Linked DNA regions of Homo sapiens. The protein of the gene in region 2 purifies or fractionates together with the protein of the main gene of each other region. This does not show direct contact. Each region holds a gene or a part of one and is shown on either strand. Other genes may lie near its edges.

Region 1 (6,927 bases), on a different chromosome or scaffold from region 2:
ACTGAGGAGGCAGAAGGAAAAAGGAAAACAGCCCAACATTCTGTTCCTCCTTCTGCAATTTACAAACGTGGCAGAGAGAACATTCTACCTTGATGAGAAAAAGAAGGGGGGTTGGGGGGAAGCAGGGAAGGGAGATGACCTAGGAATGGAAGGTAGGAGACGCTTCTGCTTGGCAGATCTGCTTTTCCTAAAAGGAACAAAGATGGTAGAAATTTCCAGAAGGCCCGTTCTTAGTTCGGCCACTGCAATTGTCAATCTTTAACCTTTCCTCCAAGTCTATTGGTTTAAAAGCTAGAGTAGAAGAACCCCATTGGGCTGCTCTGGGAGCCAGTACTGCCGTCCCTACCTAGTCCTGCTGCAATGCAGACATTTATTTTTTTCCCCCTTTCCTGAAACTGGAAAATAATGCTACTTTGAAAGCAATTAACTTTTTACAGACTCATGCTTGGTAGGGGTCACAGTACCAGAGGAAAAGTGGCTAGCTTGGTCCAGGGTTGGGAACTTGCTGGGGGCTGTACATTTGAAAACAGATCTTGGCTCTCCAAACCTGTGGGAGCCATTTTAATGCAAGCTTTTAGAGGACAAATGCCTTGCCCTTAAGTTCCCTTCCAGCCCAACAAACACAGTATTATGCAAACGTTGAAGGCACCAAACCAGGAGTCTTATGATTAGATATTGCTTCTAGGGAGGCCACAAGAACCTCGATATGTAATTTCCATTTACAGCAAGGAGATAAGAACAAAGAAAATAGCTGAGTGTCTGAACTTACTTGTTTGGGGCAGTGGCACTGTTCAGTTTTAAGTATATAACATCATTAACTGCCTGCAGTTTTACTCTAAGAAGCTAAGCTGGCCTGCCTTGCACAGACTTTTCTCAACTTAGAATGTGGTACGTTTCTGCTGATTAAATGAGCCTTTTTCCAATTCGGTGTCAGAAAGTGGGCTACTGGACACTCATTTGAAAGAAAAAAGATTACTGACTCCATAAAGTTGACATAACACAGCAATTGAATATATTTCCTGCATTTACGGTCATGTCGGATTGGTCTCCAAGCTGAAAATTTATGTACTGAACTTCTAGGGAAATTCTGAAGGTACTGCTAAACAAGACTCTACTTTTCCCACTTAACTTCTAGCTGCAGCCTTAAGTGGTCAAGGGAAATGTAAAAAGTGAGAAATCTTATGTGGGGCCAGCATGCATACAGATGTGTGGAGGAGACCTGAAAAAAGGCCAAAATGTGTTGGTCAGTGAGTCCTGAATCAAACCCAGTCTGGTGGTAGATGAGATTTTGCACTATACATAAGTCCTAAAACATGAGCACACTGACACCACCCCCCCAACACACACATACCACCACCACCACCAGCTTCTACACCACCAATGTTTTTAGGGCTCTGCACCTCTAAGAACAAGCAGTTTCATGACATTTCACAAGCACATCACCTACTCACAGTTTGAATATCCAAACAAACCCCATTAAAGGTCTAGAGTCAAGTCACAATGAACTGAACATTTCTCCCCTGACTCAGGGTAAACAGGAAGTATAATCTTCAATCCTAGCTGCAGGTTATCAGGAAAAACAGTGGATTCAAACAGTCACCTAAAATCAAGACACTCTTTAAAAAGCCCTTATTTTGTTCCTGCTAATGAAGCCCCCAACTCCTGTAGCCAAGACCCACTATTACAAACAGACCCCAAATGTTCGCAAAACTCTTCAAACATGGTCACAGAGGAAATGGATTGCTTTACTTACCCAACAAATGTTCAAGCAACCGTCTCATTTTTCCACAGTTAGGAAGAGAGAACAGGCTGGCAGATTTGGGACTTGATCAAAAAGGAAATTTTTTTAAACAGTTACATGGTATTATTAAAAACACACACAACAACAACAACACAACCCAACAACTGAATATGGAATGCTGTCATGAGCCACAGACATGATTTTATTTCCTCTACACTCCATGACACAGGAGAAGAGAGGAGGATACAATGTATAAAAGGGACAGGAAAATGAAAACAAGGATAAAAGGTAACATTAGTTCCTTGAAAATCATGCAAGAGTAGAAAGCTAAGGGATTCAGAATCCTTGCAGATTTTTTTTTTTTTTTTTTTTTGCAGGATGTTGTCCAAGATCTCTCCCCCCACCCCCCAGTCCCCATCCCTACTCCAAAAAACTTCCTCCAAAGCCTAGAAAACACTTTCAGAAACATTTGCTGGCTGTAGGCTGGCTTGCAGAACACTCTGTAGCAACCTAAGTCAGGAAAACAGGCTGAACAATGTAGTTTCAAGTGCAGAAGCTCTGTAGAATAAGAGAAGACCGTGTACAGACACCACCACCCACCTAGGCCCCAGGAGCTAGACTCTCCTTAGCACTGCTCTGCTGAGGGCACAATTCTTTTGCAAACACGCTCCTCTCTTGTCAAAACTTATCCAGCCTTCCCAGAACCTCTTTGGAGAGGCAAACTTGCCTGCTCTGCTGTCTGCCATGAGCTCTCCTTGGAGAGGAGCCTGTTTGCTTACCTTCCATTTTCTTCCCCCAGCAGGGCATGTGGCAAAAGAGAAGACAATAGTGCAGGGGTGGGAGGGGGGGAACTGCTCAGAGAGAGAGAGAGGGGAAGAGAGAGGGAAGAGGGAAAGAAAAAAAAAAAAAGAAGGAAAAAAAAAAGCTTCTTTTTTGGCATACCAGGATCTAGCTTCAAACTCTTCCAGAAACACCATGCCCTGGTGGAAGGAAAGGTGTGCCAGGCCCTTGCCAGTTTGCAAAATCAAGCTATGGCTAATGGCTACTGAGCCATGTGACCCAAGAAAGCAAAAAAATTCTCTCTAAACAGTTCCAAGTTAACATAAGTGCTCTGGGGGTGAGTGTGGCACGGCCAGCCACAGAGAAATCACACTGCTCGCCCACAATTCGGATGTCTCAGAGGGAGGGGGAAAAAAGATGGTTAAAAAGTCGAGCTTACCTCTGTGGATGCATTGTTAACACTGTGTAATGTCAATACTTATAAAACATGGAGGACAGGCTCCTAGTTCTCACAGAAAAAGGGTTTGGCACTTCGGCTGATGATCTGGCCGCCTAATAAAAGCTCATCCCCGATTGGCTGCCCCGGCAAATCGGAGTGTAAAGCCGCCCCGGATTGGCTGAAACACTTCCTGAGCGATTATCTTTGTGAGGCTCGGGTGAGCAAGAGCCATCCTGTGCATAGAAAAAGACAGGCTAAGCTAGGCCTTTTGCAGCAAGAAAAACTTGGGAAAGGGGCCCCCACACGCACTTCTCCTGCACCCTGGCTAGATTTCCCGGCACGGGCCAGCCAGGGCAGCCAGCCTGACCTGCTCCAGGAAAGCCTGAGGCCCGGAGGTCCCTGGGAAGGGAGTTTCTTGGAGTGGGCTGGAACGGCTCACCCTCACCTGCCCCCAGAGAAACGGCCCTTGTCCAGGGAGGAAGGCCAGCCTTTTTCTAGAACAGTCCAGCAGGGTGGCTCTCCAAGGGGAAGGGGAAGCTGGGGAGTGGGGAGTCCCGGGGAAACAGCCAAGGGGCCAGAAAAAGGGGCTTGAGGCAGGCCTCTGAGAAGCTGGGGGAAGCAGGCAGCCCGGGGGAGCCCCGAAAAATCAGCAGAGAGCAGCCCTGGCTTCTCAGAGGAGCGAGGAGTAGCTGCTGAGGGGAGGAGGGGAGCAGAGTGGTCAAGTTTGCATAGTCATTGTCCCCATGCCTCCTTGCAAGGCAGGCCAGGGAGCCGTGGGCCTCTCGCGCCCTGCTTAGCCAGTCCTGCAGGCAAAATCAACGTGGGTTCCTGTCGCCCTGCCACGATGCCAAGGGGGACCCCTCTCGGTCCTTACCCTAAGAAAAACCCAAAGCCCTCCTCGCAGGCCACATGCCTGGATCTACAAACTTCCCTTCCCTCCCGGCCCCTCCCCCGCGGCCGAGACCTGCTAAACCTGTCAGTTAAACACAAATCTGACTTCCGTATTAGCCTGCGATGCCTTCGGCTTCCTGCCTGTTAACCCTCTCTCGGACTCGGGGCCTGGCTGGGAAAAACTAGGCCTTGAGATCGCAGCGAAGGCCTGTGGAAAAATACCAGCTGCAGCTCTCCCGGCAGATGCAGAAAGAGAGAGAGAGAGCCGCTGTCTCTCAGCCTTTGCTTCCCAGGGAGGCGTGTACCTTGTGAATCCAGGGCACAGGCAGTGCCTCTCGGGCTGAGAAGCCATTTCAATCCAGAGGGAGACAGAAAGATGGCACGCTCAGCCCGGAAACAAGAGCCCCCATTATGCGTCAGGCCTACCCCCGTAGGTCAGCCCTTCCTGCCACAATCATCCCTGTATGTGTGTGCCTGGGGGAGTTGGGCCCTCCTCGGTGGGCAGACAAATCCCCTGGGCTTCCTAAGGATTCTTGCTTCCATTTATTTGCACAGAGAACGGCTTCTTTTCGTCCCCCAAGGCAGATGGAGCAGCGATTTCACACACAGCCCTCCATTTGGCAGCCCCCCCACCCCCCCATCTCTGGCACCGCTCCCCAGTAAAATATTAACTGGTTGTTCAGAGCTGCTTACAATTCTACCCACTTCAATTGCGTTAGGAGGTCTTTGCTGGTCTCCTCCCTAAAGCTGCCTTCGCAGTTGGTCTGTACCCAGAGATAGAAAAGGACCGTAAAATGTCCCCAGCTTTCTCGCTCTCTTTCCTTCTTCGGCATTTTAAATGACAAGGTGCTTAATTAACAGGATTTTTTAAAACAGCAACCTGGAACCACAGAAGCTAAATAAACACCATTCTTTAGAGGCTGGAGAAAGCGTCCAGAGTTAACGCAGCCATATGCCAGGAGGCATAACTCCGGAGCAATAAAGTCTCCCCTCTCCTCCTAAAATTAGGACTTGTGGGCTTTCTTGTCCCACACGGTTCCCACAAAGAAAACGAAGAGCTGATGGCTTGCTTTCCCTGCCCCCCCCCAACCCCCACATGGACAACAGATGCCCACTGCTTGTACATAAATTCTTCCTGGCCGGGAATCTCATATCAAACAGGCTCAGGAACGAGCTGGGAATCGAAACTCACTGTACGGCAGGGCAGGACCCAGGCTTTATAAAAACGGACAGGATGTTGCTGTTGTTACTGTTTTAGGCTGCTGAGGCCAAGCTGCAGGGAGGGACAGCTCCATGGCCACCCAACCTGACAAAGCTCCAGGGCTCAGGACAGCAGGCCTGGGCCTCACCAAAAGGGAGGGGCCTGCTCTTCCTGGAGGTAGAAAGCTGCATGGGGAGACTAAATGGGAGGAGGCGAGAGGTGGAGGCCACAGTGAAGCAGTGCGTGCTCACCCTCCTAGCTGTGTGGGCAGCGGCCCTCCACCGCCATCCCATATGGAATGCTGTTTGTTTCTGCGGGTGCTGCTTTGAGGGGAACAAACAGGACTGTGGGGTTGGTGGCAGATCTCCCATGCAGCTAAGTCCACGAACCAATGAGGAAATAAAATATGCCGCTGGTGTGCGTGGTGGATTTTAACCTGGGATTAAAGCTTGTTGCATAAGCAGCTACAGCATCCTCCCCGCCTCCCTCCCTCTCTCTGATCACTTGATCACTTGAAATGTTTTCTGGGGCAAAGAGCAGGAAGCTGCTGGCTTATTCTGGCAGCTCTGCTCTGTTTGAGGAATGCTGTTGGCATTCGGGTAGGTCTGAGGTTATCTGGAAAACAGCAATTCGGCTGGGGACAGACACAAAAGTATGGTGGCAGATGGAATCCTGGGAGGAACACAGATTGAAAAGAAAGCCTGGGGCAGGCCTACGAAGGGCTGGTCCTGGGCTTCATGGAATGTGGCTGATAAGCAGGAAATAAAACCAAATGTTGCAGGTCTCAATCTAGAAATCCATTCAGCAGCTCCTCTTAAAGCCCCACTGCAGTGAGTATCCCAGCAGTTACTTCTAAATTAGTGCTTTACATAGACTGATTCCTGAAGTAGGTGGCATTGTTAGAAACCTGGAACTAAGCCCAGAGAGGTGAAGTGAGCTGCCCAAGGTCACACAGCTGGGAAGTGCCAGAGATCAGATGTCCACCCCGTTAGCACTTCACATCCCTAAACTCTGTACCTTCTCCTGGCTCTAAAGAAAGAAGCAAAAGCAAAGCCGAACCAAGCACAGCAGAAACAATGAGGCTGAAACCTACGAACAGCAACTGCATAATCTGTGTTTTCTTTTAGGAGGTAGACCAGTTTTTTGCTTTTTTGTTTTTTGATACAGTGTCTCGCTCTGTCGCCCAGGCTTGAGTGCAGTGGCATCATCACAACTCAATGCTGCAACCTGAAGACCCACCCTTTTGAGGTGGGTTTTCAGTATTGAATGATGGCGCTGAAGGAAACTTTTAGATTAGACTCATTCAAATGCCCCTCATTACAGATTGAGGCCCAGAGGAAGCGACCCTCTCCCTCCCAACCTCCAGCAAGATGCAAGATGTCAAGGGGGAACACTTTGCCATCTCTAAAATTAGGCTTTTATATTCCCTGAAACCAGTGGTTCAACCATGGGGGGATTTGCCCTTCAGGGGGCATTTGGCAATGCTTGGAGACGTGTGGGTTGTCACAGTTAGGGAGGTTGTATTACCGGTATCCAGTGGGTAGAGGCCAAGGATGATGCAAAACATCCTATAAGTACACAAGACCAGCCCCGCCACAACAAGGAAGTATCTGATCCAAAATGTCCAAGGTTGGGAAACCCTGGCTTTAAGCCCTTTAAGGAAAGGGAAGAAAACAGTCCAATCATTCTGCCTCTGGCTAGAAAAGCCAGCACAGGCCTAAACAAGCAGGTTCTTTGGTGATATTAATAAGCAATGAGCTAATAAAAATAGATTAAAACGTGTCTCTCTTAATATTCCCAGGGTACAGAGAGGATTGGGGTACAGAATCAGGCTGTGGGGAGCCAGGCAGAGTGTCACAGTAACAACACTGGTCT
Region 2 (7,025 bases):
ATGTAAGAATATTCTCAGTTGGGAAAAATGATTTATAAACATTTTTAATGACTGTGTTAAAAAACCATCATACAAAAAGAAAAGAAAGTTGTTTTCAACTTAAAAAAAATCCTTATATAATGTACCACTCATCTGGGATATGCTTCTGGGAGGGGGACACTCCCTGCTTGGGCTGCAGCAGAAGGCAGTGGGGAGAAAGTCTTAAAGTTCTGGGAGTCAGGCTAGCCCCTCCTGCAGGTGTCCTCATTGCCACTTCTTGGTCCCTGTGGTCAAGGTTCAAAGTGCCAAAAGACCCACTGATCGAACCTGAGACTGTTGAGATGTCCTGTTCCCAACAGAGAGTATCTGAACTCCAGAAACTTCCCTCTCAGGCCTCCACTCCCCCCTCCTTTGTACTGTGCATCCTACTCTGACTTCCGTGGCTGGGGCAGATCAAATGTACATTCTCAGTGTCCCCTGGTAACAACCTCTCCCTTGCCTCTGATTTGCGAGGCACAGACAAAGCTGACAAGGCCTTCTTCCAGGAGGCTGCTCTGCTTTCTCCTCTCCTACCCCAGCTTTTGGCTCCTGGCTTCTCTGGAAAGCCACAGGACTCCACCAGCTTCTCTCTGCCAACAGTTCAGTCTTCAGGGCTGGAGCTGCAGGGTCTGCGGAATTCCTGTCCATACTCATGTATCCACTTGTTGGCCACTGGGAGAGAACAGGGAAGAAGGAGACAGCAGGCTCAGCAGAACAGACAGCAGCAATGCTGCAGACTGGTGCGCACTCATAGGCGCGTGTGAGTGCCCCCTTAAATTCTGCATCCTAGGTAACTCACTTGCCCAGCCTAGTCCTGGCCTCACTATGGACTACAAGCTGTTTCTTCCAGCAGATAAATAGCAAAGAGGACATTGTCCTCTGGAAAAAAGTCACAGGTCCTGTCTCCTGTAAACTCATTTTCAAACGTTTGGGAACTAAGATCACTCACCCTTCATTTTAGAAGCCCATGTTCCCCATGAAGCCATTCCAGAGTACTGAGAGAAAAACGGGTGGCATCTCCTGGCAGCCTCCACCTCAGCTTATGAGCCCCCTTCCACTTCTCTTTCTGTTTCAGAGCTAAGTGCTCCTGGATGTATATGTGACATAAACACGTCCATCTGCTTATTGATCTCTTCTTTGTTTTCCCACCTCCTCATGGGGAGCACTAAACAGGAGAGACAATGGCTTGACACATCTTTCCTTGGGGTAGAGTGTGGATGGGACACCATATTCCTCTCTGGCAGTGCTCAGGAATCAAGGCCTATCTGGTCAGGTGAATAAACCTTTACTGACTGTCACTCTGTAACAGGAACCCCTGCCTGTTATAGGCTCCCAGTCTGTTGGGGGCACCTCATTCATAATCTGATCTTCTCAATATAATGTGGCACTGTAATGAAGCGTTTGGAATGGGATGGCTGTGGTAGGTCCCACCCATCCCCTGTTTCACTCTACTCTGCACCCTGTACCCCCTTCTCATGCCCAGAAAGGCAAGACTTACCCCACTTATCTCCCACCAGGACAGGACAGCCAGCATGAAGTGTGTCACTGTCCCCTTCACCACTCCTGTGCAGGTTCCACCAAAACAGTGCTGCATTCTGAAACAAGAGGGCCCAGCCCCAGGGAGGGTCAGCCCAGAACCTCAGTCCTCGGGAAGCACATACTAAGGACAAATGCAGGCATGTCATTGAAGAAGCCTTTCCATGCAGTCTGGGGGCAATGCATGCATAAAATGGCACAAAATGGCATAAGTTGCCATTTACTCCTTCATGCATGGGTCACTGACAGAGTCCCCTGCACCCCAGGTCCTGGGGCTGCAGGGACAAATTACGTCCAGTTCTGCTCTCCAGGAGCTCACAAGAAACAGACATAAAACAGACCTGAACAAGACAGCATGGTGAGTTCTGGGAGAAAGGTGAGCACATTTGTCATTGGGTCACTGAGGAGAAACACCGAACAAAACCACAAGGTGGAACAAAATATTCCCATACAGCCAAGCATGTCATTAACTCAGAAGCTTTTCCTCCCTCAGGCACTTATGATTAACACTTTCAGGGAGCAGGCAGTATCATAATCCCCAGTTTCCTAGCAAAGAACTTGAGGCCCAGGGCTTTAAATAATGCAATAAAAGAAGGAGCAAAGTGAGGACTCAAGCCCAGGTGTTCTGACGCTAAATCCTGTATGTTTTTCCCCCATACACGGCTTCTTTGCCGTATCTACTTCCTGTAGTCAAATTACTTTAACCTTGGTCCTCAAAGTAGACAAAACTCCAGGTCATGAAGAGCTTTCCAGGATGCATTGGCAGTCTCTATGTTCCTAAGCCTACAAGAGGCGTCAAGCTCCTGAGTATTCAGAGATACCTGGCATTGATTATCGAATGCTCAGGATGTGCCAGGCACTGTACTACCTGCTTTACAGGAATGATCTCGTTTAGTTATCTTCATTTCATTCCTAAATTAGGTAAGGGCTGCCAGGGAGTTGGACTGATCTGAAATTTGGAGGAAATACTCATTCATGAAGCAAACCTCTTAGACTCAGTTCTCCTCAGCGCCTATCCTTTCCAAATCCCTATTGCAACATCATAATGCCTGCTGACGTCTCTGTAAACTCCTGGATCAAAGGGCTATGAATTTCCCTCTGCACCCTCCGTGCCTCTAGCTCTCAATGTGGACTGAACTAATGATGGAAGGAACTAGATGCTGTAGAGGATCCAAAGTAAATAAAACAGAGCTCTTATCTTGAGGAGCTGTACTGTGACAGGGAAGACAGACATGTAATCATCTACTTGCAATATAAGTGTAAATAAAATAACAAATAGAGGCACAAGTGACGAGCATGTGTGCGGTAGTAAAGAAGACTATGGGATGATCTGTGATTCTGGGAATTGGGGAAGACCTCTTTTTGGCCCTCCTCCCAGGAATGGGCTTGCAAGCACAGACAGCGTGAAGGTTAGAGGGTAAGCGCTGCACTCCCTCAACCCCGTCTTCTGGGACCAGGGCCCCACTCACCCTAACCACAGGCACGCTGAGGTTGGCATAGATGAAGGCTGTGGCTCCTCCAGCTTCCACCGAGCTCAGCTACAAGACCAGAGGAAGAAGCCAGAGTTAAAACTGCCACCGACTTCCCTACCCTGTCATATGATGTCACATCTGCATAGATTCCTTCTCATGGTCTTTTCTTCAACTCTGAGAGAAATACTTGAAAGACAATCATCCAACTCAGGAGGAACTTCGGGAGCCTACTCAATGGCATTGGTGTTTGCCTACAGGGCCACAAGAGGACAATGTTTTGGTATTCTTCCTTTCTTTCCCTTCCAGCTAACATCCTTATTGAGGGCTACAATAAGTAGATTCAAACTTTTTGACTGAGACCCTTAGGAAAAAATACATTTTAAATAATGACCCAAGACACACACACATACACACACACACAGACACATACACACACACACCTCCTGAAATATAATTGTCATAAAACATTCTTAATATCTGAGATAGCTTCTGATCTTCTCTACTTTATTTTATTCTATTCTAGTGTGGTTCTCTTAAATGCTCATCAGAACCACTAAATTAATCTCACAACCTATAATGGATCATGACTTGTGGCTTGAAAACCAGTTTAGACTATGATTCTTCTTGAAAGCTGGGCATCATAGGAACTACTTATTACACCTTTGGCATATTCTCCAGATCACTCTGCTCCTCTCCAGGGAACCCAAGCTAAGGAGTTTCATCACTGGTCTGTTCTAGGACTATGGATATGTTTTCTTAATGTGAAGCTTTTTTTCTGGTTGTCACAGAAATATATAATAATTGTAAACTGTTTTAAAACAGGAAAATATTTTTAAATAACAATAATTATCATTGTACCATCCAGAAAAAAGTTATAGTTTACATAGTGATAGTTGACATTTATTGGGCACTGACTATATGCTAAAAGTTACACTATGTCCTTGCAAATATATTATCTCATTTATTCCTCAGAACAATCCTAGGAGTTACAATCGTTATTATTTTTAACTCTTCACATTTTACAGATAAAGAAACCAAGTCTCAGAGAGCTTAAGCACTTTATAAAAGGTCACATGGCTCTTCCATGATGGAGTCAGGATTTGAGCTGAGCTGGTGCCATGTGACTACAAAGTCCCTGCTCATAACCATCATGCTACACATTTGGAAATTTAGGTCATATCCAAATGTTTACTATTATAAACAACACTGCACTGAACAACTTAATGAAAAAAAATCATTTTGCATTTTGGATTGTTTTCATAGGAAAGAGTCTTGGCACTAGTATTATGGGGTCAAAAGGACATGCATAAGTTTCATACTTCTTATACATTTTGCTAAATTATTTTTTCAGCAGTTGCATCACACAAGAGTGCCAGTTTTACCTCACGCTGCCTAGCATTATCTACCAGAAGGTTCATGCTCTGTAATCTTATGGCAGTCAGATCCCGGTACATTTACTTGTGTTACAGAGCAAGAGGTATAGGAGGTAGGACGCTGGCCCTTGGTAGATGCAAGTGAACTGACATGGTGATTTGGAACCTGGAAATGGCAGTGGTGACTATTAGCATTCCTTGGCTCTCCCTGTAGCACACTGGGAAAGCCGATGAGAACAACAATTGGCTCCTTGTGTTCAGGTAACAAATTAGATTATTCTATTCTAGCCCTTGTCAGTAAGGGGCAACCTGGACTTTCCTGCATTCTTTTACCTGTGGTTTTACAATATGGTGGAAAGGAATGACATAGCCAACACATTAAAAAGAAAATCGGATTCTGCATGCAATGAAGCTCATGAGCACGGCATGGGCTGTAAGAACAGTGGGAAAGGGAGAGAAATCTTCCGTCTGTATACCTTCTACTATTTTGTACTGGGGCTGATCTTTTTTTTTTAATAGAGACAGGGTCTCACTATGTTACCCAGGCTGGACTCGAACTGCTGGGCTCAAGCGATCTTCTTGCTTGAGCCTGCCAAGTAGCGGGGACTACAGGTGCACACCACCGCACCCAGATTGGGACTGATCTTATGTCCAATCTGAGCAGAAAATCACCAACTGGACTTCAACTCAATCCTCTGTACTTCTTAAAGATTATTTTCTCCCTATAAAATCAGTCTTAGGTTTCCCACAAACCTTAACATTTGTCTTGAGAAATGTTTGTCTTGAAATTGTCTCGAGAAATCCCAACCTGAAGATGAAAGACTTGGGCATAATCTAGCACTTCCCTGGTCCCATGATACTGATTCCCCTTTATGATACCCTTTCCTTTAATTGCTCTGTGGGATACAATGACAGAAACATACAGTATGGAACTTTCCAGAGTGACATCCCTCCTTACATTATCTCATCAGACCCTCACAACAACACTGTGAGGAAGCACAGGGCAAAAAGTGAGCTCACATAATAGATGTAATCTGTGCTGAGGCCACATAGTAAGTGGCAAAATCAGGATTAGGTCAACTGACTCCAAATCCAAAGTGTATTCCATTCCACTCTGTCTCAAATACTTAAAACCCAAATGCACATGCATGCACACACATGTGAAAGTGCATGAGAGTGCATGCACACACATACACACACACACACACACACACATGCATTTGCCATTTAAAATTACTGGGCTCTTATACCCACGCTACCTTCGCTATAGTAACTGGGGCCCTGTAACCAGGGAACCAGCCATAGGAGATATTGAGGGGATAAAGAACAGAGATATATTGTGCCCTAGATGCCCTGTTTTTTGGCAGCAGTTCATTCTTTCGCCGTTTGTGACCTCCCATAACAGCTGGAGTGGTCAACCAGAGATGCAACCAACTGCAGCTCCAAGATGTGTCCCCTGCCTGATAGCTGACCTCAGAATGATCAGAATGAGGCCAGACACCATTGTAAGTGGAAGCCTTCCAGTTCCATAGGAAGTACAGAACTGAGCCACATAGAGAAACACACTGGAATTGCTGGCATTAAAGACTACACAGAATGCTGGCCTCTGACTGCCCTTTCTTGGCTGTCCTGTGGAGACCAGAGACAGTCCTAATAGAAGAGGAAAAGCTGGGGTGAGGGATGTCTGCTATTCTAATGAGGCTGAAACAAGGACTTCATCTTTGGTTGTTATATAGAACCCTTATATATGTTTGTCCCTTCAGTTAACAGTAAGGTATCTCTTCTAATAAGTGATTAATTCTAATATTCTCTTCCAGTGACAGGTGATTGGAAGCTTGTCCATAGAGACGAAAGTAAACCCACATGATCTGAAGGGAAGGGGACAGGTGAGATGATACAGACTGGGGCCGAATCCTGATCAGGCCAGGAATTAGGAGAGAAGTACAATTTATTGGTTTATCTTGAAAGGGGAGTCATGGAGATTTTACTGAAGATTTTATAGAGAGATAAGGAAGAGAATTTTCACTAAACATCAGAGGCAGCACTTGCTGAATTTCTCTCAGTGTCTCTGTTCTTCCCTCTTGTAAATCTGCTGCCTCATTCCTCATCCATCTCCCTCCCCACAGCCCCACAACCTCATCTATGGGTTGTTTTTCAACACTGATTAGTCCATGAGACCTCAAGGACACAGATTCTCAGATCCTCCTCCTGTGTTGTTCAAGTCCCTCTATCTCTTGGCCTTCAGTGGAGCTCCACTTCCCATCCTAATCCACTGCCCATACCAAGGTCATATTTAGATTTACACACTGTCAGCCTCTTTCAGGGTAGAAACCTTGTCTTGTATTTCTTTACATCTCCTACAGTGCCTATCAAAAATGCTGTCTGAAATTCGCAAAATTCCTGGAGATTTTTGCGCTGAGTACCAGATAAAATCAATACGTGAAATTGCTTTGAAAACAATAAAATAAAGTAGAGCTATAGTCAGTCATGAAGTAAGAAGCCCAGAGCAATACTCACATAGATCATAAATGTTGCAACTCGGTTTCCTGACTTCATTCTGTAGAGGGGGCTGCTTGGTGACTGAGAAAAAAAAAAACAGAACATATTATTTTATGCAGATGGCACC
Region 3 (7,025 bases), on a different chromosome or scaffold from region 2:
CATTTGTCACCTGAGAACATTCAACCAGCAGTTTGTCCTCAGAGCATGCAAACAACTTTATCACAAAGACTCAGATCTTGGAACATGTAGGCCATGTAGTATCAATATTTGTATTAGGTGTGAACCATATGGAATTGCCACTTCTGTAAGCCATTGGCAGTTCCACAGGTCTGACCTATTCAGATTTCAAGCCTGCATTCTGAGTTAAACATTCATTGGTGGGCCAGGCTGGGAAGACAGCCATCATTTACCCTCTTGTGGGAAACGTGGGCCAGGTGAAACAGGCAATACACCTTCCTCCTCTCCCTGCCCATGAAGCCAGGGCTGCTTGGGTCCTGGCGAGGAAGCAGCGGGCAGACCAGGAGCAAGCTGCCGTCCTCCTCCTCCTCTGACCCCCGCCATCTGCGGGAGCAGCCTGGCTCGGAGAGTGCTCATGGGGCCAGGTGTTCCCAGTGTGAAGCCTGTTCATCCGGACTCCTGGCGAGTTGGAATCACTCGCTGGACAGACACGTCCTCTCTGTGCTGCACGAACCACAAAGTGGCATCACCATAGCCATCACCACCAGCATCAACATCAGGCTTTCATTTTGCTCATTGTTGAAGTGGAAATGGGAAGCGTTTTGTAAAGTGGTGTACAAAAACACCACATGTGGATGTGCATCAGAACCCAATTCACAGTGGATTGATTTGTGAGTAATATCAAGGGCAATAATGATAATCATATTGTATTAGGGTAGGATTTTGATTTTGTCTATATGTTTCACTTGGTTTTACTGCTAGGGGGGCTCATGGCCACAAAGAGGGTAAGTGATTTGTGAGCTGCCAGATGGCTGTTTTGTAAGGAAGCCAGCCCAGGAATCGAGATCTTGTGGCTCCTGATGAGAAGTGCTCGTGCTCATGTGGTCCAGACCCTCTCCAGCTCACCTCATGCTGTCACATATGAAGGTCTGCAGTATGCAGCAAGCCTGACACAACTATCCCATAGTTTGTACATGTGCACGAATTCACACAGAAAGAAGGCAAACTGACCCCAAATAAAATGCCCTGATAAATAAGGATCAATCACTTAAGACTGGTGACAGAACCCAAATCAAACCATGTACTATATGATTTCCCAAGGACAATAAAATAACATTTTCTTCAAAAAAGTTGCTCAGGGCTTTTTCTGCCTATTCTATTCTCCCATAAACCTAACACCTCCCCAGCTCCCAATAACCAATCATGGACGATTCCTGAGATCAAATGACAGAGCACAATCCCAAGTCCCAACCTGCCCCACAGCTAAAGGGAAGAGCTGGTGGGGAAGGGTGTGGGGCACTCAGCATTCATTACCTCCATGGGCCCTGGCTCGGCTGTGTCCCCCAGCGAGTGGCTGTCACTGTGGAGACCCGGGGGCCCGTGGGCAGCCTGCCTCCTCTCCTCCTTTAAGGCATGTTCCAGCAGCTTCTTGTTGAGGATCCGGGCCACGTTCTCAGTGAGCGTGTAGCCAGGGGGAGCAGATAAGTCCTGCTTCACTGGCGTGCCCTCTCCCCCTTCCTCCCTGCACATCTCTGACCCCACCCCAATGGGGCTAGGCGACCTTCCTCGGGAATTGGTGCCTGTTTCCTGGCCTGGGCCCAGCTCTGGTCGGGGCTCTGCTGAGCGAGACCGACTGCCGGCCCGCAGCCCCTTCTGGAAGGGGTCCTGCACCACGGGGCTGTGGTCAATGATGTTGAAGAGGCTGGAGAGGCCATCATTAATGGTGGTGTGCACGGGGCTCTCCCTTGTGGTGGTGGAGCGGGCCCAGGCTGACTCACTGTACCCTTTCTGGGCCATCCCTGGTGACGTCCTGTTATTTGGCTGGTCGGCTTTGGGGAGGGGCTTCCTCTGCAGCTTGGGAGAACCATACTTGGGGGAGCAGCATGTGCGTTCAAACTTGGCCTGCACCTTCTCGATGGCAGGGGCCACCTGTCTGCTCCTAAGGCTCCGGGAAGGAGACGACACGGGTGTAGCACCGCCCCCAGCCTTTGGAGTGAGACACTTGTGGGGGCTGCTGGTGACACCGCTGCCACGCAGGGCTTCAGTCTGCAAGCCCACACTGATGGTCTGAACAGTCTGGGTCCCCATCGTCCGGGACCCATTGGTCTGGCAGGCCATGTCCTTGACTTGCAGCTCGCCAGGGCCGGAGCAGATGGCATTCCTGACAGAGAAGGCCACCTCCTTCATGTCATCACTCAAGTTCTTGGACATCTCCAGGCTGTGCAGTGGGGAGGCAAACCCCAGGGAGGTACAGAGGGGACTATCAAGGGGGCGCCGTGCCCCCTCCACATAGTCCCGGGAGTGCCTGGGGGAGGTGCAAGGCCACCTGCTGAGCATGGGTTCTGGAGGGCCTCCCTTGGTGTCTCCCGGGCTCCCTCTGGCTCTGCTTGTGGGAAAGGGACCCTCACCACCTGCCGCCGTGATGCTGTCGACCCTGCGCACGGCAGGCGGGCTGTGTAACACGCGCAACCCCGACTGCTCGGTGAGGACGTGGCTCCGCAGTGGCTGCTTCTGGCAGTGCTCTGGGCTGGTCATGGTGTCCGTGGTCATGGTGACACTTGTGGTTAGGTACCAGGAGGAGTCGGGGAAAGGCTCTGTGCTGTCCTCGTGCCCTGCCCGCCCCACCTCGGTCCTGTCGGCCCAAAGGTCCGGCCCCCCACCATTGTGGCCCCTGTTGGGTGTGTAGTCCCAGCTCTTGTTGAACTCCTCGATGTACTTGAGGTCGTCTGGAGACAGGGGTGGGGTGACATCCTCCTTGCTGCTGGTGGACGGCAGGCCCTTCTCAGGCAGGAAGGGGGAGATGTCCATTAGACGCTGGAACTCAGACATGGAGGACACGGACACCGCCCTGGGAAAAGCAGAAAAGAGGGTGTCAGTACCTGCCAGGGAGCCTCTGACACACCACAACACCCATGTCCTGCCCTGCATGAGAAGTGTCAGTGAAGGCACCCGCTGCCACCCACACCAGGAGAACACTGTCAGCTGCTCATGTGCTGCACTCACAGACTTACCCTGCGGGCATTTATTGGACTCTGCGTGGCTCTGGAATTGTTCCTGAAGCCTTGCATTGGTCAGAATTTAATACAACCAACTCTGGCTCACACCCGTAATCCCAACACTTTGGGAGGCCAAGACAGGAGAATCACTTGAGGCCTCAGTGCCTCAGTGAGAATTCTCAGGAGACTCACTCGGACCACAGCTGAAGGGTGAAGACGGTGAGCCACGGCGATGGCCAGGTTTTGGCAAGCTGCCACCTGATGGACACAGATTTGGTGTGGATTCTTCCATGTGTTAGCACTTTCAATTTGCCATGAGTTCGCTGAATGCCTCTCACATGCCTGGCAGGTGCTGCAGGGGTGCCAGCAATGCTTCCAGGCTAAGACAGAAAGTGGCCGGAGTGCTCGGGCACGACTACCACCAGGGCAAAGAAGTGGTGGTCAGGAACGGGGCTGGGGCTGCCTGTGCCTGCTGGCTCAGGCAACAGAACCTCTTTGGCCTGGAATCCCTCCAGCTGGGGTGGGATGGGGCGATGAGGTGTCTGTAGACTCACTGTCCAGATTCTTACAGGACATACTGATACTCCTTTCACCCCACAAAGCACAGGCTTAAACCTAGGGATCTAGACTAGTGCAGGCCCTGTGGAAGGGGTCCCAGATTGAGTGTATGGACCACTCCTCCATAGGACCTATTAATGATGATGAGGCCAGAATTGGGGTCTGCTCTGAGCAAGTCCCTGTACCGTGTGCGCTGGTACACAGAACCAGCAAAGCTCTGGGCAGCTTTGCTGACAGCTGGCTTCACCTTGGGGGCAAGGCACCCGTCCATGTGGTCAGCACCACGGGGTAAAACAGCAGGCTAAAAGTGACATCGTTAGGCATTCCATCTTGTTATCTTTTTGTTGTTAGAAATAATCTACAAACTGTCCAGTGGTGCTTTGAATAACCACAAGCTGGCTATATCCAGTGCCGGAAAGGAAGGGCAATGGTAGGGATGGGTTGATTTGTCCCAAGGTCATGAGCTTTCCAGCAAGTATGAATTTCCCTCTTCTCAATTCAAGGAGTTGCTGAATTAATGATGAGTTTCAGAACACTGTTCGCTGGGGACTGTAAGTGCCGGACACATGCCAACACCCTGGTCCTTTCCACATTTCTGTGGACATAGCTCATCTAACTCCCACTTTTGCCCACAGAGGAACTGTCTCAGAGTTAAATCAGTGGCACCTACCTGGGTGGGAACTCAGTGCCTCTGGGGCATGGATGGATATGGTGGAACAGAGATGATAAAGACAGAGAAAGCAGAGGCATTAACCTCAGCAGTGGCCAAAGCAAACAAAACCATGATGAGAAAACCCGGGATACATCTGGAGCATGTGTAGGCGCTTGCAGGTGGAACGAAGAGAGTATGGTGGAAACATACCGGGCAGTCAGAATCAGAGGACATGGGGACAGTGGGGAGGGCGCATCCAGTTTCCACTTTGGATATTTTGAGACTATCTATCTATCTATCTATCTTTTTTTTTTTTTGAGACGGAGTCTTACTCTGTCGCCCAGGATGTAGTGCAGTGGCGCAATCTCGGTTCACTGCAACCTCCGCCTCCCGGGTTCGGTCAATTTTCCTGCCTCAGCCAATATTTACATTTTATAACAAGCATGTGTTACTTTTGAAAGCATAAAAGTTGATGGCTTGAGTGGTGAAGTACAGTTGCTCCAAAGCCTAACCGGAAACACTGATGTGGCTGCTGCTGTGAACGGGGAAGGTGGGAGGGTGTAATGACTAAACTCTGTTTACTGTTTGTTTTGTGCCATGTGCTGCTTTCATTATGTGTATTAACATACATAAGCTGCAAAAAAAAAAGATAATCAAAATACGTCCTGTATACAGATGAGGAAACTGAGGCACAAAGCAGTTGAGTAACCTACCCAAGGAGGCAGAAGCGATTCAAACCCAGGCAGTTTGGGCTGGGCACAGTGGCTCACGCCTGTAATCCCAGCACTTCGGGAGGCTGAGGCGGGTGGATCACCTGAGGTCAGGAATTCGAGACCAGCCTGGCCAACATGGCGAAACTCTGTTTCTATTAAAAGACAAAAATTAGCCGGGTATGGTGGGGTTTGCCTGTAATCCCAGCTACTTGGGAGGCTGATGCAGAATTGCTTGAACCCAGGGGGCAGAGGTTGCAGTGAGCCAAGATTGTGCCACTGTACTCCAGCCTGGGAGACAGAGCGAGACTCCATTTCAAAAATCAACCAACCAACCAACCAACCAACCAACCCAGGCAGTTTGGCTCTAGAGCCTGAGCTCTCAAGTACTGTCCTGTACCACCCAAGAAAGACCAGAGAAGACAGCGTGAAGGACAGAAGTGTGCCACAGGCATGGCTAGGTGCTGCAGAGATCTGGCAGGGAGCAAATGGGAAGAGGACAGTCATTCACAGACTCGAAGTTCAGAGGAAAATCAAGGATGAGGCGATCTGGAAATGCTGAATTGCCTGAGAAGAAATTTCATGTAGTAGAAACGGTATGTATTCATTTGGAGAATGATGAAAAAGTAAAACTGGAGGAAATTAAACTGGGGAGGAAAAAACTGGTGTGTAACTAACAACCACATCAACCACTATATATCTTCTTCAAGGACTACTGCCAGAAAATATTTTAATAAATTCTCTTAGTGGAGCTTTTAAATACAGTGTATAAAGCATCTCACAGCATACAAAAGAGAGTTTTCCCAGACTTTAAATGAGAAAAGAGAGGTTTCCATGGACCTTTCAAAAACCACTCAACACAAGCATTCCTTTGTATACATAACACAACAACAACTGGAAAGTCCTTACCATAAAACTCATACACATGTGACACAGCACGTCTAACTTCTTTGTTAATAATCAAAAATACCATGTTTATGAAATGAATAATAAAGCAGCCACTTCTTCAGAAGTGGCATAATTTTAAGTCATTTTGAAGAGAGTGGTAAAATAGACTGCATTGACAAAACAACATTTTAAGACCAAGACATTTTTATTCTAGTAATCTATTATTTTCATCAATCTTACTTACCTTTGAAGATTTCCTTTGTGATTTTCTTCTTCCTATAAAGAAGAAATAACTTCATCTGAATCGGTTAATTTTGGTTGTCCAGAAGCCCTGAATGTACTTAAGTGATTTGTTTGCTCTGCACCCCCAGGAAACCACCATTTAAAATGTGCACTGAGGCCAAGCTCTGGTTAGGAGTGCTACTGCCCTGAGGCCTTTAAAGTACAATCATCAAAGCGAGTCCACAGCATGATGAGGGGCTGGAGCTTCTGTAGTCCAGGGAGAAGCCCACATGAGTGAGAACAACTGGCTATAAACTTTGTCATGGAGGAGGTGGCTCTTCTGTGCTTCCTCAAAGGACCTCACTGACTACATGAATTTCAAAGCGGGATTTGTAACAACCTAAGTGTGAGAGTGAGACTGAGAGAGAGAGAGAGAGTGTGCATGTGTTATGTTAGAGAGAAAGATGGAAGGTGATAGAGTAACGTTAGTGGTCCCGATCTTGCTGTAGAAGTTGGCGTGACATCCTTAGACTCGGGCACTTGGTTGGTTTTAAACATTCCCATTTAGAATCAGAGGCAAAGTACAGTGCCTTCCCCTTTAAGAAGAATGATAGCTGTGTTTGTAGAGAACGGCATAAACACGAGGTTGTCTGCTGAGAAAACACTCTTGTGCTGATGTGGTTTTGAAGCAGCAAGACTCTGACTAACAGTAAGGGAAGCATATTTTTCAAGACAGTAAATAGCAAGGGGTACCCTTCCCCTTAATGAGCATGCCCCTTGTCTCTGCCATGCAGGGTCCAGTGGGCTGGAACCCACGCACAGGCTCCTGACCCCACCCCACGTTACCTCTACTATGTAATCGGACTGTATAAGATTGCCAATAGATCAGACAGGGTGGGACTGTGGCAATGTCCTATCAACCTGGTACACATTGCTGAGGATAAGGCATTTGACCTTACTGATGTGGGTGAAATATAATTT
Region 4 (6,828 bases), on a different chromosome or scaffold from region 2:
CGCCAGTGGTAAATAATACTTCGCCAACAGAGTACTAATGAAGCTTCAGAAGGCCTCACATTCAGAGAAATCAAGTTATAATGTTGGTATTAAGGCTCTATTTGCCCCTCAGGAGTTTTATTTTCACATTATTAACATCCAGAAATAATCGTCAAACTTTAGCATGTTACTAGCCCTGTATATTGAACTGAATCTAGAGATGTTTTTATCCAAAGGTGTAGCTTTAAAAGGAAGTTATGAAATCCAAGGAGAGAGAAACTCTAAGAATATGTTTGACTTGTTAAGATTAAGCATATCATTAATAAACTTTCACTTAAAGGTAAAAAAAAAAAATCCTCAAAATGTTGGTATCATTTCCAGACTGTCCTGTCAGCATCAGAACTTACAGGAAACGCTTCATCTTCCCATACAAACCCTGTATTTATTCACAACCCTGGCATACTTGGGGAAAGAAAAAAAAAAAAGCCCACACGATTTTAGATCCTGTTTGCTTTTATACGTTAACTGGTGGAATATCTGAGAGAGCCTTCTAAGCAAATGAGCGGCATGTAAAACTTCACAACAGTGAGTTCAGAAACTTTCATTCTCATTTTGTCCACGTCAAGAACTGGCTGCCCGCATGACTTTCCTCTGCTGTCCCTTGCATTTTTAACTCTGGCAGCCTTTTCTAAATGATCAACTTTTTCTAAAACCAGCAGGAAAGTAACATGATGCCAGCAAGATCCATAGGTTTTAGCTTCAGAGCTGGAGGACTTTGAAGAATTGTTGGAAGGTTCCTATTTTATTTTTGCTTTGAACAATCAAGTTTTAGCCAACAACCAGGCCCAGAGTTATCATTTCTTTGTAATTTTGTCTCAGGCCCTATCTGTATTTTTCTTTTGTACTTATTATCTCTCCCAGACCCTTTCCTTTCCTGTTCACCTGGTGTGTTTACAAAAGTTCAATGAATCTACAAAAGTTCAATGAATAGGCCTAACTTGTCTCAGATTTAACTCCTCCGCTGAGCTTCTCACTTCACTTACCTCGCTTAAACTCTAGCCGTGATTTTCCAAAATGGCATAAGAATGAATATTCTATCATAATTTAGATTCATCATTAAGATCAATGGCTTACTCAAAAAACTTTCAAAGCATCAAATATGAGGCCTAAAAAGATAGAGGGAAGTAAAGCCGGTCCTAAAATTTAATAAGTCCAAGATTCCCTCTGAAACCCACCAGTCCTTCTCACCCTCTAACTTAAATTGCTTTAGAGTCCTGGGGCCATAAAACAGTTGCTGACTTCCCTGGGGAAAGGGGGAAACACCACCATCTCAGACAGGTACTAACGAAAAAGCTTTCCCAGCCACAAAAACAGCTTTACACTTCAAACAGCTCCCACCGCCGCCTCACCCTCAAATTATTCCTGGGGTCCTATAATCCTGGAGTTATTTGGAGGGACAGCGATGTTTGCCTTGGCCTTTCAAAGATGCGTTTCTCTAGATCCCAAACAGGAACCAGACAGAAGGCAAAGCGTCTGTCCGCTTGGATGTCCCACCGCTGTCAGGCATTTAATCACCGGCCAGTGTCCCCTGACCCGCGCGACACATGGCGCATCAACCGCATCGCAGAGGAAGTCTGCCCCTTCCTCAGCCCCTACGGAAGCGCCCGGGCTGCAAGGCCCTGCCACATGGTACGGACAGGGCACAGACCGCTCGGCCAAGCTGTCCTGAGCCGCTCTGAGGCGGGTGCACCAAGGGATGCGACACCCGCCTTCTCCAGAGCCCAGCTGGGCCTTTAAGGGAAAAAAGTTTGAAGCCTGCATTTGCAAACTCTTCAAAGCCAAAGGCAGTCCTGTGCTGTTTTCCCACTTTGGAGACCATACGGAGGCCCGTCTCTGAGACCCTCCCGACCCTCCCGAGTTCGCCCAACTTACTACTCTGCATGCTGGTGCCTAGTCTGCGCCCCGCTTGTCACGAGCCCCCAGAAAACTTGCAGTGGCGGCGGCGGCGGCGGCCCCTCGGGTCCAACCACCTCCAGCTCCTCCGCTGCGCCCGGTAGGAGAGAATTAAAATCAGCCAGAAAGAGACAGCGAGGGGGAGTGGGGCTGCGAGGGGGAGGGGGCACCGGCCTGAAACTTCTTTTTTTGGCAAATGGGGATTTGTTTTTCCTCCTCCCCGGCGGCTGAACTTGACCCTGCTGACTCCAGGGGCTACTGCAGTTTGAAGTCGCTGGTTTCCAAAGCTCAGATGCCTCAGACCCACCAAAAGGAGGAGAGGAAGGGGGAAAAAGGGAGCAGAAGAGAAGAAAGAAAGAAAGAAATCACACGCTCAAAAAGGAAGAAAGAAAATGCATGTGAAACCCGAGAAGCCTGCGCTTGGCTTTCTGCACACTCTCCCTCTGCTTTTTTTTTTTTTTTTTTTTTTTTCAAAGAAAGTCACTTTTAATTCCCAGGGCTCCCCGCTCGCGATCGCCCACATTTTGCGCGCACACGAGCGGGCGCTGCACTCGCGTCGCGGCGCCCCGGGCCCGGCCGAGGGGCGCCCGCGCCCCCCGCGCCCCCCGCAGCCCCCGGCCCCGCGGCCCGCTCGGGCCTCCCCTCCTTACCTGTTGATTAATCGTCAAGAACACCCTCGGCAGCCCGAAAGATGGTGGCGCGGCGGCCAAAGCCATGAACCGTCTTCTGTTGTTTGCAGAGTTGATCTTGGATTATTGCGGGGGGGAGAGAAAAAGGTCTTTCCTGCCTCCCCCCCCTTTCCCTCCCCCACCCTTATTAAAAAAGAGAGAGAGAGAGAGAGAGAGAGAAAGAGAAAGGAAATAGAGCAAGGATGTGCCCGGTGCCGGGTGGGAGAGGGGAGGGGGTGTTGTTTTTTGTTTAAAAAAAAAAAAAAGAAATAGGAAGGCGAGAGAGCAATCGAGAGGACGCGAGGTCTGGAGAAACCAGCAGCACCAAAAAAGAGGACGCTAGAGATTGCAGTAAGATCGGGTCTTTATCAGAAATGTTATCGCTTGTCAGGACCTCAGTCTCCGCGCATTACGTCAGTTTCAAGACACCAACACTATTAATATCAAAGGAGCCTTCGCGGAGGAAAGCGCCACCCCAGACCGAGCTCCCTTAAAGAGACAGCGCGCGTCCCCGCGCCGCCGCCGCCGCCCCGCCCGGCTCCGAGCACCCGCCGCCGCCGCCCGCCGGGACCGGCCCCGGCCGCGGCGAGCCGGCTGCGCGAGAACTTCGCCCGAGTCGGAGCGCCGCAAATGAGAGCGGCGCGGTGCAGGGACCCGGCTACCTTCCCGCCCCGCCTCTCCCCCCTCCTCCCTCCCCCACCTCCCGTCTGTGAACGTGCGGGCTGGAAAAGGAGGAAAAATCCGAACGCGTTAGGAATAATGTGATAAAGACGAGGACTTACCTTGGGGTAGTGGGGGGCAGGTGGGGGGCAGTGCGTGGCCGCCAAACCGACGTTCCCCAGACACTCAGAGATGCTAACAGAAACAATTTAAAGAACTCTCAAAGTCCTTTTACCTTTTCTGTTGTTACTTTCCCTTCTCTCTCCCAATTAAACGACGCAGGATGTGTGTGTGCGTGTGCGCCCCCTCCCCCGCCCTTTATCTGTGGCAAGAAGTCTTAGGACACCTAGTTGGTGATCAGGATTCCCCACGATTTTCACGGCAAGAAGGCTTGAGGAGAACAACTTGAACTCTATCCTGAGTTGGAGAAGTGCGGACTGAGGTTGCTATGGTTTTCTGAGCTAAAGAGAAGCCAGAAACTCAATGGGTGCTTTAAGGGGGTACCACAAAACAGACAAAATGGGAACATTATTCAAATGCTGCAAGATTAATACATGCAGTTTGGGTTTTAGTAGCAGATAAGGAACTCTGAATTAAGCGTGACATTCTTTTTTACCTACTTTACATCTCCATATACTCTCATTATTAAGAGAAATTGCCTCAACATAAAGTTCACTGGATTGAGCTTTTTTTTTTTTTTTTGACTTCTAAAGATCAACAATGCATAAAACATTACCATGACAGGATTCAAAGTATAGTAGGTGTTAAAAACAAAGTAAACATTTCTTGGGCGTTTGGACTTCATTTTCTTCAGTTGGGTGACTTTAAGTGGCATGTTTTTCCTCTGGTGAAAGTCAGTTTAAAGTAATTTTGTGCTAAAAGGAGAAGCATCTTTCCTTTTCCAAACTACAAAATGATTAAAATTAGAATCTTAGGTACAATCATGAATCTGAGAGCCGAAGATGAAGTAATTTCCTCCAAAATATTTTTCACTAAATGATTCTTGCATCTTTTTAGAGAAAAGATGGGTATATTTTCCAAACATACTATTATCAGAAGTGAAAAAGCCAATCATTTTAAAAAATTAAAACTGAAGTAGGTGCTTTTAGAACCTTATTCCTTTTTCTCTATGGTCTTTATTTAATATACCTAGTCAAGCAGATATGTGATTTTTTTTTTGTAGCACATTTATTCCAGAAGTATTTTGGTACCGTTTCCCATACACTCTTTATGAGTAGAAAACCAATAATTCTTTTGCAATAGAGAAACTAGTCAGGTGAAAAAGTAGTCAAAATACAGTTTCACAATGAGGCAAACAATATATTTCCTAAAGGAGAGAGAAGACAATGAGCCTCATATGCCTGGAGTTATTCATATGTTATCATCCATTTAAATTAATTTGAGAACAGAGTTAGATTTATATATAGTACTGCATGCCGGGAAAATTAATATCAAAATCTTCAGTAAATCTCATAGTCAGCTACTAATGACCACCTGCATATTTCCACACTGGAGTCATTTAATACTGTCCACCACCAATTTCCACTGTAAAATGTATTCACATATTAAATATAGACCTTTTATTTTCTTTTTTTAAGCCATAAATTAACTTGCTGACTTTTATGGAAATATGCACGGCACAGTGAGAAGCATTTTTATTAAAGGAAAAAAATAAGGATCTGAGTGAAACATTCTTGAGCCATGACTAACTAAAAATATTAAATCAATTTTGAAATATGTATTCGAACAGTAAGACTGTTTTGTATTGAAAGGGTTAATATCACCTAAAACTGCTGAAGCTGGTATCTAACTGATAAAATCTGAGGCTATAGCATCTTAGCAAAGTTAAATAGTACAATTTATCACAAGGATTAGGCCCCTAATCTCCTTCTGCTCCCCAAGATTTAGATGACATTTTAAAAGGGGAAGTGATCTTCCTCTCCATCACCCACAAATCTAAGGCAATCATCAAGACTGTAAATTTATTCACATGAAACAATCATTGATTAAATTGGTTCAAAAAAAAAATGAAATTACATGCTTTTGCAAGCACAAAGCCCTTGAGATGGCTGGTGTTTTTCCACCTGTAATAATACAAAATTTGACTATTAAGTGTACCCAAAATTACATATTATATGAAAAGTTAAAGCCAAAGGTCTGAGGGTGAATTATGTCTTTTAATTGAAAGGATAAAGTTACACTTCAGGTACTGAAGCCAACAAATTCATGGTCACTTAAAAATTTAATGAATGAAGTTTCACGGACTCAATCTTGCTGAAGTTTGCCTGAGAAATGAAGAATCTCTTCATGTTACTTTTTGTATTTCAAGTTAGAGTAGAGCAGATCAAACTGCTGTCTGTATCAATTCATTTACATTAACCACAAAGGATCTGTAGAGAACTTAATAAAAGCTCAAATATTTTTGTAAACTTTTGCAAGCAAATTACTTATTTATTTATGAAATAATTTATGAAGAAAATTTTTACCTCATGCTTTAGATACATTACATGTGCTCTTGATTGACACAATATGTTTAAGCTCAAAGGCCCTCATAGCATTTTTTAATTCTAGTAGGAATATTTCAAAACAACCAACTAATACATGAGGTCATAATTGTTTGACAGTTGTTTTTAATGTATAAAATAAGTTACGTATATTGTTTTCCTTGAAATGTTTGTTGATTTGTTTTTCTAGTCCTGACATTTGCATGGCACAAACTGAATTAAGGGAAATATTAAAGATTTATTTACATTTAATACCTTCTGCTGTCAAACATATGCAAAACTCTTAAAACCATTCCCTTATTTGCAACGCATTTCTGAACAATGGAGACTGGATATTAAAAAGACAACCTGTGCTTTTATAGGACACACCAGAAAATAAAGAAGATATTAAGAGAAAGAAAAAAGCAAACAAAAGAAGCACATTTTAATTAAAATAATTTCTTTATAATCTTTCATAATTCTTTGAATTATGGAATCTTCTCTTGTGGCTTTAGCACTGATGAAACAGTTCCTCAAGCTGTATTATTAATGCATATTATTTATCAAAATGACATACTATAATATACTTTTTCTGTTTTATTATTTAAACATTCTTTTCCCCCCTTTTCTTGTAGTTTATTCAGCAGAGATACAAAGAGGGATTAGTAGTTAAGCACAAGCATACTTGTTTTACATTTTCAACCTTTTAGCACACTACTTACTTACAGTTCCAGTGCCTGTAATCACAATGATTTTACCTGATGGAACACGTATTTCAGAAATGTAATCCAACTGTTTACCCTAACACGTCATAAATTGCAATTCCTTTTAGAAACCTCAAAGATTGACAACCCTTGGTCCTAAATGCCGACTGCTTTAACACATACTATCAAGAAAACATTTATGTATTATTTGCTTTCAAGTTAGTCCTACCCCATGTGAAATGGAAGACCCTTTACCTTCCAGCATATCAAAAGCAATTATTGAAATACTCTGCCTTCCTTCACGGTAAGACCTGAAGGAACAGAGGCATTATCAGAGATGAACTACCTTAAGTTTATTTCTTCCCACAATCACTCGGCAAT

Evidence for each region.
Region 1: the proteins of P4HA3 (region 2) and ZMYND8 purify together in Homo sapiens (co-immunoprecipitation; 3 studies listed by BioGRID and IntAct, with this or other methods). This does not show direct contact.
Region 3: the proteins of P4HA3 (region 2) and MTCL1 purify together in Homo sapiens (co-immunoprecipitation; 3 studies listed by BioGRID and IntAct, with this or other methods). This does not show direct contact.
Region 4: the proteins of P4HA3 (region 2) and TRPS1 purify together in Homo sapiens (co-immunoprecipitation; 3 studies listed by BioGRID and IntAct, with this or other methods). This does not show direct contact.

The regions. Positions count from the first base shown.
Region 1 is NC_000020.11:47,353,697-47,360,623, forward strand, and holds the start of ZMYND8 (MYND-type zinc finger-containing chromatin reader ZMYND8), read right to left. Parts: upstream 3,004-6,927; 5' UTR 2,975-3,003; coding exon 2,961-2,974; intron 2,741-2,960; exon of another isoform or gene 2,719-2,740; coding exon of another isoform or gene 2,684-2,718; intron 1,825-2,683; exon of another isoform or gene 1,754-1,824; intron 938-1,753; exon of another isoform or gene 1-937. UniProt on the Homo sapiens protein: Chromatin reader that recognizes dual histone modifications such as histone H3.1 dimethylated at 'Lys-36' and histone H4 acetylated at 'Lys-16' (H3.1K36me2-H4K16ac) and histone H3 methylated at 'Lys-4' and histone H4 acetylated at 'Lys-14' (H3K4me1-H3K14ac).
Region 2 is NC_000011.10:74,266,629-74,273,653, forward strand, and holds the end of P4HA3 (prolyl 4-hydroxylase subunit alpha-3 isoform 1 precursor), read right to left. Parts: intron 6,980-7,025; coding exon 6,917-6,979; intron 3,093-6,916; coding exon 3,024-3,092; intron 1,614-3,023; coding exon 1,517-1,613; intron 1,184-1,516; exon of another isoform or gene 968-1,183; intron 691-967; coding exon 620-690; coding exon of another isoform or gene 433-619; 3' UTR 29-432; downstream 1-28. UniProt on the Homo sapiens protein: Catalyzes the post-translational formation of 4-hydroxyproline in -Xaa-Pro-Gly- sequences in collagens and other proteins.
Region 3 is NC_000018.10:8,820,540-8,827,564, reverse strand, and holds part of MTCL1 (microtubule cross-linking factor 1), read right to left. Parts: intron 6,099-7,025; coding exon 6,067-6,098; intron 3,395-6,066; coding exon of another isoform or gene 3,349-3,394; exon of another isoform or gene 3,207-3,348; intron 2,867-3,206; coding exon 1,333-2,866; intron 11-1,332; coding exon of another isoform or gene 1-10. UniProt on the Homo sapiens protein: Microtubule-associated factor involved in the late phase of epithelial polarization and microtubule dynamics regulation.
Region 4 is NC_000008.11:115,665,963-115,672,790, forward strand, and holds the start of TRPS1 (zinc finger transcription factor Trps1), read right to left. Parts: upstream 3,014-6,828; 5' UTR 2,583-3,013; intron 2,052-2,582; exon of another isoform or gene 1,922-2,051; coding exon of another isoform or gene 1,912-1,921; intron 1-1,911. UniProt on the Homo sapiens protein: Transcriptional repressor. Binds specifically to GATA sequences and represses expression of GATA-regulated genes at selected sites and stages in vertebrate development. Regulates chondrocyte proliferation and differentiation.